3 linked regions of the Homo sapiens genome follow. The protein of the gene in region 1 interacts with the protein of each later gene in a pairwise test. Each region holds a gene or a part of one and is shown in the gene's direction. Other genes may lie near its edges. The genes, in order: NTRK2, NMNAT1 and SH2B1.

What was found.
Region 2: the proteins of NTRK2 (region 1) and NMNAT1 interact in a two-hybrid assay, tested with the Homo sapiens proteins (one large-scale study listed by BioGRID and IntAct).
Region 3: the proteins of NTRK2 (region 1) and SH2B1 interact in a two-hybrid assay, tested with the Homo sapiens proteins (one study listed by BioGRID).

The regions. Positions count from the first base shown.
Region 1 is NC_000009.12:84,672,592-84,676,243, forward strand, and holds part of NTRK2 (BDNF/NT-3 growth factors receptor isoform a precursor), read left to right. Parts: intron 1-3,652. UniProt on the Homo sapiens protein: Receptor tyrosine kinase involved in the development and the maturation of the central and the peripheral nervous systems through regulation of neuron survival, proliferation, migration, differentiation, and synapse formation and plasticity.
Region 2 is NC_000001.11:9,967,461-9,971,112, forward strand, and holds part of NMNAT1 (nicotinamide/nicotinic acid mononucleotide adenylyltransferase 1), read left to right. Parts: intron 1-3,652.
Region 3 is NC_000016.10:28,866,764-28,870,415, forward strand, and holds part of SH2B1 (SH2B adapter protein 1), read left to right. Parts: coding exon 1-270; intron 271-567; coding exon 568-669; intron 670-2,242; coding exon 2,243-2,334; intron 2,335-2,444; coding exon 2,445-2,620; intron 2,621-3,652. UniProt on the Homo sapiens protein: Adapter protein for several members of the tyrosine kinase receptor family.

The DNA.
Region 1 (3,652 bases):
GTGTGTGTGGTGGTGCTTTTAAAATTCTGTTTTAGGTGATAGATGCATATAATGAAGAAAGAAAGAAGATAGGGCTGATCATTTTCACTTTGTTTTTCTGTTTGATAATTTTAAGGCCATGATCTGAGAAAAAGGAAATAAAACTATCTTTAAATCTAAAAAATTATTATTTCAGACCTTCCTGATCTTAGCTGCCTGATGTATATGAAATCAATTGATTTCAGCAGAGCTTTCTTATATCTGTCCTCACAATTGTTGTTGCTTCTTTTATATCTGATGGCAGGTTCCTATTTTCAGCTTTTTTAAAGTAGATTTTAAAAATATTTACAAAAGCATGTGTCATAGTTATTCATTCAATCGTGGCACTTCTAATTTCTACTCTAACTTTTTTCCCTTTTGATTTGAAAACCTCTTGGGGTTGTGGGATTGGAGAGGTATATAGGGCTAAGTGTTGAGAACAGGGAATTAGGTTAGTAATATTAGTCTGGCTGGGTAGATGTGAGTCCTGAGACAAAGTATGTTTCTCTGCTCTATCTCAGCTTTGTGTGAGCCCAGCCAGTTTGTGCCCCAGTGCCTTTGTCTGTAACTCGTATGACAATACTTCTTTGGAAAGTACTCCATATAATTATTTTGAATTCTGCTTTTTTGACCTAAAAATGACATCAGTGGATGCGCTTGTTTCACTCGCATCCTTATATGACACCATCTATGTTCTTTTTCTTACATATTAATATTTGCTTGCACAGCTTTTAAATTCTTGTCCAGTGGATACCAGCTACAGTTGGAACCAAATTATACATATTTTAAAACTTTGTTGTTAGGCCCAGTGGTATTCCTAAAATAACCTGTTGTAAAGTTCTGGTTTAGTGGTATGTAGCTGAAGTTACGTGCGTCTATTTTTTAAAAATAGAAATAATGTGGTGAATAAACTGTGATTAGCAACACACAACTTGCTGAAACAACGGTTTACCATATCATTCAAAAATGGTGTATCTTTTAGCATCTATATATTAAACCATCATGCCCTTAGGGTTCTAAGAACACAAATAGTGGGACATTAAAAAAAATGTGTAGATTAACCAAGAGGTAGGATCTTTTTGTTTTGTTTTGTTTTTACATGCATGCTTTCAGCTAAGCTGACATTTTGTCTTCAGAGTCATTGAACCTATTTTATTAAAAATCTTCCCATCACAGTACCTGTTTTATATTTTTTGCCCACTAATGTGACATAACTAGATCAATATCTATCTATAGGTATGTATCACGCCTGCTCAACATCACACTGCTAAGTGGCAGCTCCTGTTATTTGGAAATGGTTATACCACAGCAGTGTTAAAATGAATTTAAACGCAGTACCAATGTCACATGCAATGGAATTCAAGAGTGAAGCCTGTTGTTGGAATTATGTAACTGGCCGTTTAAATCCCAGTTGTATTAAGTGCCAAAGTGCATTGCAAAGGACAAGTTCTGTTTCACCCAAGTGGTAAAAGGCACAGTCAAAAGAAGTCGTGCATTTTTTTAGCTGTGGTAAAAAAAAAATACATAACCTAAAATGTACCATCTTACAGTTCAGTAGTGTTCTGTGTATCCATGTTGCTGTGGAAGGGCATGCATTTTTATGTTGCACGTGCTTTATGAAGACTAATAGGGATCTTTTTTTTGAATTTCTCCAGTGGTATTCTCTGATTTGGGGGTAATATTTGAGAACAGCCTTATATTTTTCCTCTTAGCACAACCTAAATAGAATTTGGAGCTTCTCCTATGACAGACTCTATGTGCAATTTATTGTTGGCCTGGTTAAGCAGCTGTAATGTTGTGTCATTAATACATTGATTTTGGCCCTCTTACTTTAATAAGCTTTGCCATTGCAATTAATTGTACTTAAAAAAAAATCCTGGCATTCACAAAGATTCAGTGAAAGGCATCAATTTTTATTACTCTGATGTTTACTTCTCAGCCCCTCCATTGGGGGTTTTAGAACTTTGGACTGTGTCTTATATGCATTTAAGAGCCATGTATTTAAATTTGGAGCACGGTTACATAAGCCACACTAGACTTGTTAATGAATAAGGCAGTCTAATTTACATCATTCATTATTTAATACAACTTGCAAGCTGGAGTTGAGAACATGCTGTCTTCATAGTGTAGGTATTTACAGACATCAGCTTGGCACAACTGTGTGGAGTCTTTTTAGTTTCATACCTTCAATCTCTGCAATATGGACACTTTTGTTACCCTGGGTAAAACAGTGGAAAAGCCTTGTGACCCTTTTGACCCTACTTTCTTCCACCTCCCCTTCCATCACCCATTATTTATACAGGAAAATGGGTTTGATTTTTTTCTTCTCTGAAAAGTGATATTTCCTTATGGGAATTCAGAATGCTGGAGTTAAGAGAAGAGCCTGGGCTGTATGTTATTACAAGCAAGTATTGGGAAGTTGAAGCAATGTGGTCCCAGTTCCCTAGTGTGGAGTTTAGGTCTGTTTAAGGTCTCTCACTGTTTCTATCCCATAAACCTCTGTTTGTGTCTGCTTCAATATTCCCTTATAAAGGTGTTTTCTAAGCTGAAGAGTTGGCTGAACAGCTGAGAGTTGAGGTCTCTTTCTCCCTAGTAATATTCTGTATGATCTCTTTGACTATATCTAGGTCATAGGAGTATAAAAACTAGTGTTTTTGTTTAGCTGGGGAAGGGGAATTGAATTTCTTTTCTCTTCTCCTTTCTTTCTTTCTTTCCTTTTTTTTTTTTTTTTTTTTTTTTTTTGCCTTGAGTGTTAAGCAAGTGCATCCAGTTTTAACTCATTGGTCATCTTGCCTGCTAGGGAAAAAAACATTATCAAACCATTATTGAATACCATAAACTGGCCTTATCCCTCTGGCTAACTTTACCACTTCTCTAGAGAGTTTCTTGTAGGTTCAAAAGCTATAGCGTAGGATGTGACATGAAAGACCTGCCCCTTGGAACAATGCCAATTTTTAGTTGCTTCTGATGCCTGTAATCAATAGGAGGATTTGGGGGAGAGACTATTGAAGCATGGCAAAGTTTTTACTTGTTTGATGTGTGTTTGTGAGAGAGAGAGAGAAAGATAGAGGGAAGAAAAAAAACCCTGAATCTTGGATTATTTATGGTTGATCAATCATTTTTATAGTCTACTTGGTTGAGCTATTTTAAAACAAATCCCACCTCAAGCCTCAAATGGCAAAGATCTGAGCTCCACTGTGGCCTGATAATTTTAGCTCACATTTGATTGCTGATCAATCTCCATTAGAAAAGTAAAGGTCCCATATAACTGGGTGCCTTCTCACCACTTACTTTGCTCTCTGGGGTGTCCAAAGGACTGGGAAGTTATAAATATTGATCTGGGAGATGGATGAGTGAATGTGCTCAAAGTTACAAAAATCTTGCAAAGAAAAGCAATGTGTAGATACTAAGTTTATTCCTTATGTGTTTCAAAAAATAAAAATAAAAAAGCATATCATGGAAAGCTGAAGTCAGGAGACCTGGAACTTCATCCCAATGTCACCACTACCCAGTCACTACCCAGTTACCTGATCTTGAAGCAGCCTTTTAATGTTTCTGGGCCTCAGCTTGTCACATGTAAACTGAGGGCTTTGGATTTGATGCTCAGACAAGTTTCTCAAGGCTCTGAAGTTCC
Region 2 (3,652 bases), on another chromosome or scaffold:
AGAAAGATTAGAAAGCAAAGCGAGAAATAAATAGGGGATCTAACCCAGGAAAGAGATGAAGAAGTTTTCAGAATAATAGCTTCACAAATAGAGATTTTTCATCTGGATAAGAGGAGGAGAGTTCCAGAAAGAAAATCCTCTGGGAAAAAAACAGATTGAATAGAATAGCAATTGTAAATTAAACCATTTGAAATTGATGTTTTGTTGATTAAAAAAAAAATTGCTTGCTGAGCACAGTGGCTCATACCTGTAAGCCCAGCACTTTGGAATTGGCCAAAGTGGACAGGTTCGCTTCGAGATTCTGAGCCCAGGAGTTTGAGACCAGCCTGGGCAATATGGCAAAACCCCATCTCTACAAAAAATACAAAAAAACAATTAGCCAGTGCATGCCTGTAGTCCCAGCTGCTTGGGAGGCTGAGGTCGAAGGATCACTTGAGCCTGGGAGATGGAGGTTGCAGTGAGCTGAGATTGTACCACTGTACTCCAGCCTGGACAACAGAGTGAGATACTGTCTCAAAAATCAAAAAACAAAAGACAATTCTAGTAACATAATTTGCAACATTCATAATAGCTATATTCATAGCATGTTTGCTATTTGCCAAATGTAGTTTTTTTTTTTGTTTTTTTTTGAGATGGAGTCTCGCTCTGTTGCCCAGGCTGGAGTGCAGTGGCACGATCTTGGCTTGCTGCAAGCTCCGCCTCCTGGGTTCACGCCGTTCTCCTGCCTCAGCCTCCCGAGTAGCTGGGACTACAGGTGCCCGCCACCACGCCTGGCTAATTTTTTTGTGTTTTTAGTAGAGATGGGGTTTCACCATGTTAGCCAGGGTGGTCTCGATCTCCTGACCTCGTGATCTGCCCATCTTGGCCTCCCAAAGTGCTGGGATTACAGGCGTGAGCCGCCGCGCCTGGCCTGCCAAATGTAGTTCTATGTCTTGGATCTGTATTGTTTCATTTAATCCTCACAACAATCAGGAGGTAGGTAGTATTATTTTCTCCTTTTTAAGATTGATTAAAAACTGGGACAAGGTGGGCACTGTGGCTCATGCCTGTAATGCCAATACTCTGGGAGGCCGAGGCAGGTGGATCACTTAAGGTCAGGAGATCAAGACCATCCTGGCTAACATGGTGAAACCCCGTCTGTACTAAAAATACAAAAAATAATTAGCCAGGAGTGGTGGCGGGCACCTATAGTCCCAGCTACTCGGGAGGCTGAGGCAGGAGAATGGCATGAACCCAGTAGGCGGAGCTTGCAGTGAGTCGAGATCATGCCACTGCACTCCAGCCTGGGCGACAGGGCGAGACTCTGTCTCAAAAAAAAAAAAAAAAAAATTAGCCAGGTGTGGTGGCACGTGCCTGTAATCCCAGCTACTTGGGAGGCTGAAGCAGGGAGGATTGCTTGAACCTGGAAGGCAGAGGTTGCAGTGAGCTGAGATCGTACCACTGCACCCCAGCCTGGGTGACAGAGCGAGACTCTGTCTCAAAAAAAAAAAAAAAAAGCCAAAGAAAAAACCTGGCACAAAAGGAAGGTTAAGTTAGGGTTAGGTTGCCCAAGGTCATGCCGTTGGAGCTGCAATTTGAAGCCAGGCAGCCTAATATCAGAGCATAGGCTCTTAACTCTTCTGTTATATAGGCGGGAAATTGTAGGATACTTTCTTGTAGAGTCTGACTAATCCAAGCAAAAAGACCTGCGGTACTGACAGGTTACTGAACAGTTATGGCCCCTGTGCACAAGCCCTACCTACCCACTCAGCCTGTCCCATCAGCTCTTTTTGAAGAAACTTTAAAATATATCATGAATATTGGTAGAGAAATAGAGATGATAATCTGTTGGGGAAATGAGTAGAATACCATAAACAGGAGTATTCAGAGGATAGGGCTCTTGGAAATTAAGAGTGTAATGGCAGAAGTGAAAACTAGGCAGATTGGAGGATGAAGTTGAGGCTATCAGGAAATTAGAGCATGAAGGCAGGAGGTGGAAAATACAGAAAAAATGATTAGATGCTTCAGCTCTAAATAATAGACATTTTCAGGCCAGGCACAGTGGTTCATGGGCGGCTGAGGTGGGTGGATCACTTGAGGCCAGGAGTTCGAGACCAGCCTAGCTAACATGGTGAAACCCATCTCTACTAAAAATTCAAAAGTTATCTGGGTGTGGTGGTGCATGCCTGTAGTCCCAGCTACTTGGGAGGCTGAGGCAGGAGAATTGCTTGAACCTGGGAGGTGGAGGTTGCAGTGAGCTGAGATCGTGCCACTGCACTCCAGCCTGGGTGAGAGAGGGAGACTCTGTCTCAAAAAAATAAATAAATAATAGACATTTCAAAAGAACAGATAAAATGGGAGGCAGAAAATCATCAATGAAAGAACTCAAGGACATTTTCTAGAACTGAATGTTACAAGTTTCCAGACTGAAAGGACCTGCTTGCCCTGTGCTCAGCATGATGGATAGAAACAAAGCTGCACTAGAGGACAGCACTGTGAAATTTCAGAACACTGCGGACAAAGAGAAGACCTTACATGCTTCAAGACAGGAAAAAAATGACATTCAAAAGCTCCGGAATTAGAAGTGGCTTTGGATTTCATGCTATTAACATTGGAATCTAGAAGTAATGCCTTTGAAGTTGTGAGAGAAGATGATTTTCAACATAGTCTGGAGATAAACTATATTGGGCAGTTTGGGAGAAGGTAGTCAAAGGGTATGAGGGCTAATCTTTATAGATCATAAAGTCAATGGGCACTGTTATAGTTGGATAAATTAAGAAATGGCATTATAAGCACATAATGTAGAGTTATGGTAGAAACTACCAGAAGAAATAGCTGAAAAAGTTAAAAGTGGTTGGATGGAAGGGATGATGAGTGGAATATGATTGATGGCTGTTGGTTTTCATTAAGGGCCTTTTTTACCCTGTGATGTTCTAGATCTATATATATGAATTAGTTGAATAAGAAATTTTAGGCCAGGCGCAGTGGCTCACGCCTGTAATCCCAGCACTTTGGGAAGCTGAGGCAGGCGGATCACAAGGTCAGGAGATGAAGACCATCTAACATGATGAAACCCCGTCTCTACTAAAAATACAAAAAATTAGGCAGGTGTGGTGGCAGGCACCTGTAATCCCAGCTACTCGGGAGGCTGAGGCAGAAGAATGGTGTGAACCTGGGAGGCGGAGCTTGCAGTGAGCTGAGATCGCGCCAATGCACTCCAGCCTGGGCAACAGAGTGAGACTCCCGTCTCAAAAAAAAAAAAAAGAAATTTTAATAAAAACCTAAAATTGGATGCCTTATGTTACTTCATTAGGGTTATGGAAGGATCAGTGGAATAACTGATATGAAAAAGAGGTTTGTAAATTATATTCTATTATTTAGTGGAAAGTTATGATGTTACTATCATGTTGACTAAAAGGCAAAAATGCTGTATTTGGTAGATGATAATATTGTTGTATTAATTAACTGTGGCCACAATAGTGCAATCACAAAACTTGAGTGACATATGATAATGAACACTAATTTTTTGTTTTTGAGACTAGGGTCAGCTTGTTGGCTTGACGATCTGAGCCAGGTTTGGTTGATCTCACTTGGGTTTGCTTATGTGTCTGAGCAGATGGACTGTAGTTGGCTGGTCGGGGATGGCTATGTTCCCCACATGTGGGGTGGTTGT
Region 3 (3,652 bases), on another chromosome or scaffold:
TGGACTCACCGTTTTGAGAGGCTGAGACTCAGTCGGGGAGGGGGCGCCTTGAAGGATGGAGCAGGGATGGTGCAGAGGGAAGAGCTGCTGAGTTTCATGGGGGCTGAGGAGGCAGCCCCTGACCCAGCCGGAGTGGGCCGGGGAGGAGGGGTGGCTGGGCCTCCTTCAGGGGGAGGAGGGCAGCCTCAGTGGCAGAAGTGTCGCCTGCTGCTTCGAAGTGAAGGAGAAGGAGGAGGAGGAAGTCGCCTGGAGTTCTTTGTACCACCCAAGGTGAGGCCCCTTGGAGGGTGGGTGACTGAGAGCAAGTGAGAGAGTGCTCAGAGTGGTCACAGCCCTGCAGATAAGCTCTGGGGTTTACCAGCCCATGGCCCTGGTGTCGCTCACTTTTTGTTGGTAAAGCTGGCTCTTGGCTCTGTGTTAGCAGCTGCGGGCAGGACTGAGAAAGCAGTGTGACTGCCTTTTGTCTAACTTCCCGAGGATGTAGAAGGAAAGATGAATGTCTGGAGGGAGGGGAAGAGTGGTCTTTGGAAACCAAACACCCAGATCTGTTTCTTTCTCCTGACTTAGGCCTCTCGGCCCCGACTCAGCATCCCCTGCTCTTCTATCACAGACGTCCGGACAACCACAGCCCTGGAGATGCCTGACCGGGAGAACACGTTTGTGGTTAAGGTAGGAATTCAACTTCCCAGCCGCCGGCAGTGCTTGTGTTAAGGAGAAAGCCCTCAGCGCATTTAAGCAAGTGGCGTCGCCGAAAGGAGGTATATATATGTGTCCAGTGCCTTGAGAGTGTGTCCCTGGGGCTGCAGCTTTTCTGGGATAGCGGAAGACAGGGAAATGTTCTTACTCTCAAAAACAATGCCTCCACTTGAAAGAGAACTGTGGAGTTTTTGTTGTTGTGGTTGTTTTAGAGAGACAGGGTCTCCCTCTAAGTCAGGAGTGCAGCAACCTGATCATAGCTCACTGTAGCCTCGTGTAGCCTCGAACTCCTGGGCTCAAGTGATCGTCCTGCCTCAGCCCTCTAAGGAGCTGGGACTACAGGCATGTGACACCATGCCTGGCTAATTTTGTTACTTACTTACATTTGAGATAGAGCCTTGCTCTGCCGCACAGGCTGGAGTGCAGCGGCGCGATCTTGGCTCACTGCAACCTCTGCCTCCCAGGTTCAAGCGATTCTTGTGCCTCAGCCTCCTGAGTAGTTGGGATTACAGGCATGCACCACTATGCCCAGCTAATTTTTTGTATGTTTAGCAGAAATGGGTTTTGCCATGTTCGGCAGGCTGGTCTCAAACTGGCCTCAAGTGATCCACCCCACTTGGCCTCCCAAAGTGTTGGGATCACAGGCGTGAGCCACTGTGCCTGGCCTTATTTTATTTTATTATTTATTTATTTTTTTTGAGACAGAGTCTCGCTCTGTCGCCCAGGCTGGAGTGCAGTGGCGCGATCTCGACTCACTGCAAGCTCCACCTCCCGGGTTCATGCCATTTTCCTGCCTCAGCCTCCCGAGTAGCTGGGACTACTGGCGTCCGCCACCACGCCCGGATAATTTTTTTGTATTTTTAGTAGAGACGGGGTTTCACCAAGTTAGCTAGGATGGTCTCGATCTCCTGACCTCGTGATTTGCCCGCCTCAGCCTCCCAAAGTGCTGGGATTATAGGCGTGAGCCACTGCGCCTGGCCTATTTTATTTTATTTTATTTTTATTTTTTATATTTTTGAGACGGCATTTTACTCTGTCTCCCAGGCTGGAGTTGAAGTGGCATGATCTTGGCTCACTGCAACCTCCGCCTCCCGGGTTCAAGCGATTCTCCTGTCTCAGCCTCTCGAGTAGCTGGGACTACAGGCGCCTGCCACCACGCCTGGCTAATTTTTGTTTTTAGTAGAGACAGGGTTTCACCACATTGGTCATGTTGGTCTCGAACTCTTGACCTTGTGATCCACCCTCCTTGGCCTCTCAAAGTGCTGGGATTACAGGTGTGAGCCATCGTACCCGGCCTCGCCTTATTTTATTTTTCAATTTTTTTAGAGACAGGTTCTCACTATGTTGCCCAGACTGGTCCAACTCCTGGGCTCAAGTGATCCTCCAGAGGTGCTGGGATTACAGGTGTGAGCCTCTGTACCCGGCCTCCAGAGAGAATTCGAATGCATCTTGTTTGTAGACAGCCTGCATACATTGTTCTCATTAGGCATGGATTAAGCCTCCTCCCTGCCCCTGCCCCAGCTGAGGCGTCGTCTCATCTCTGTAGGTGGAAGGTCCATCCGAGTATATCATGGAGACAGTGGATGCCCAGCATGTGAAGGCCTGGGTGTCTGACATCCAAGAATGCCTGAGCCCAGGGTGAGAAGCCTGACTTCTGTCGCTAAGGGACATAGAGTGGGGTTGGGGAGCAGCCTTGCGCCTCTCACCTGGTGACTTTCCTCCCAGCACCATCTTCCCTGTCTCTGCAGACCCTGCCCTGCTACCAGTCCCCGCCCCATGACCCTCCCTCTGGCCCCTGGGACCTCATTCCTTACAAGGGAGAACACAGACAGCCTGGAGCTGTCCTGCCTGAATCACTCGGAGAGTCTACCCAGCCAGGACCTGCTGCTTGGACCCAGCGAGAGCAATGACCGCCTGTCGCAGGGTAAGGGTGGAGCCTTAGAGAGCTCGGAGCCTCGGAACCTGCCATGCGGGGCCCCTGCTGTCAGGCGCCATGCCCTCTCCAGACGCCACTGTGCCCCCATCCCTGTTTTCCAGATGCCCTACCCCAACCCCACCAAATGTTGGTCTTTGATCCCTGAACACAGCCACAGTTTGCTGTTTAGAATAATCATGACCCCACGCAGGCCCCAAGCAAACCTTAGCCAGGCTTCTGCACCCAGCCTCGCCACTTTTTCAGTCAGCGTCCTGCCAGCCACCGCTCTGGCTGGAAATAATGGTGGTTTTCTCCAAGCTTCTGGAACACTTTGTAGAAATCTTTGTTTTGTTCTTACTCTGCATCTCTGTGTCTGTCAGGGGCAATCACGTTTTCTCTTGACTCTGTACTTTTTGGTCTGACCAAACACACATACCCGACCCACACACACAAACACACAAAGATGTGTCACCCAGTCCCAACTCATATTTCTAGATTCGGCCTCCACTATAGCCTTTTCTCCTGACCCTCTGTTCTGAGTTCCAGCTGCACAGTGCCTAGCACACAGGCTGTATTCAGTGAATGAACACATGAATCATGGAATCTTAGATCTAGAGTGGACCTTGCATCTCATCAGATCTTAGTAGCTAAGACCAGGGAGAGGACACCTGAGGGTCACTGAGGAAGACAGGGGCTGCGCCACCCTGTTTCCCAAGCCATGCTGTCTGTGCACCACACGCCTGTCTTCTGAGCACTGCCTGCCTATGACATTTGTGTAGGCAGTGGCCTGCTGTTGGACAGACTTGGAGGATGGCCCTAGTGCATACCTGGCCCTGCTCTGTGTCCCGGGCCAGGATGGGGTAGCTAGGATGCCTGAGATGAGCTCCTTGTTCTCTAGAGGCTTTCAGCTGGGTTGACATCACTCCCTATAGAAAGCTTAGTGTCCCCTGAGCAGCACAAGCAGGAATCACGTTGGGAGCTCAGGAGGAAGAGAGCAGGGGAAGGTGGGAGAGACAGGGACTGCGACGCCGAGGAGAGGAG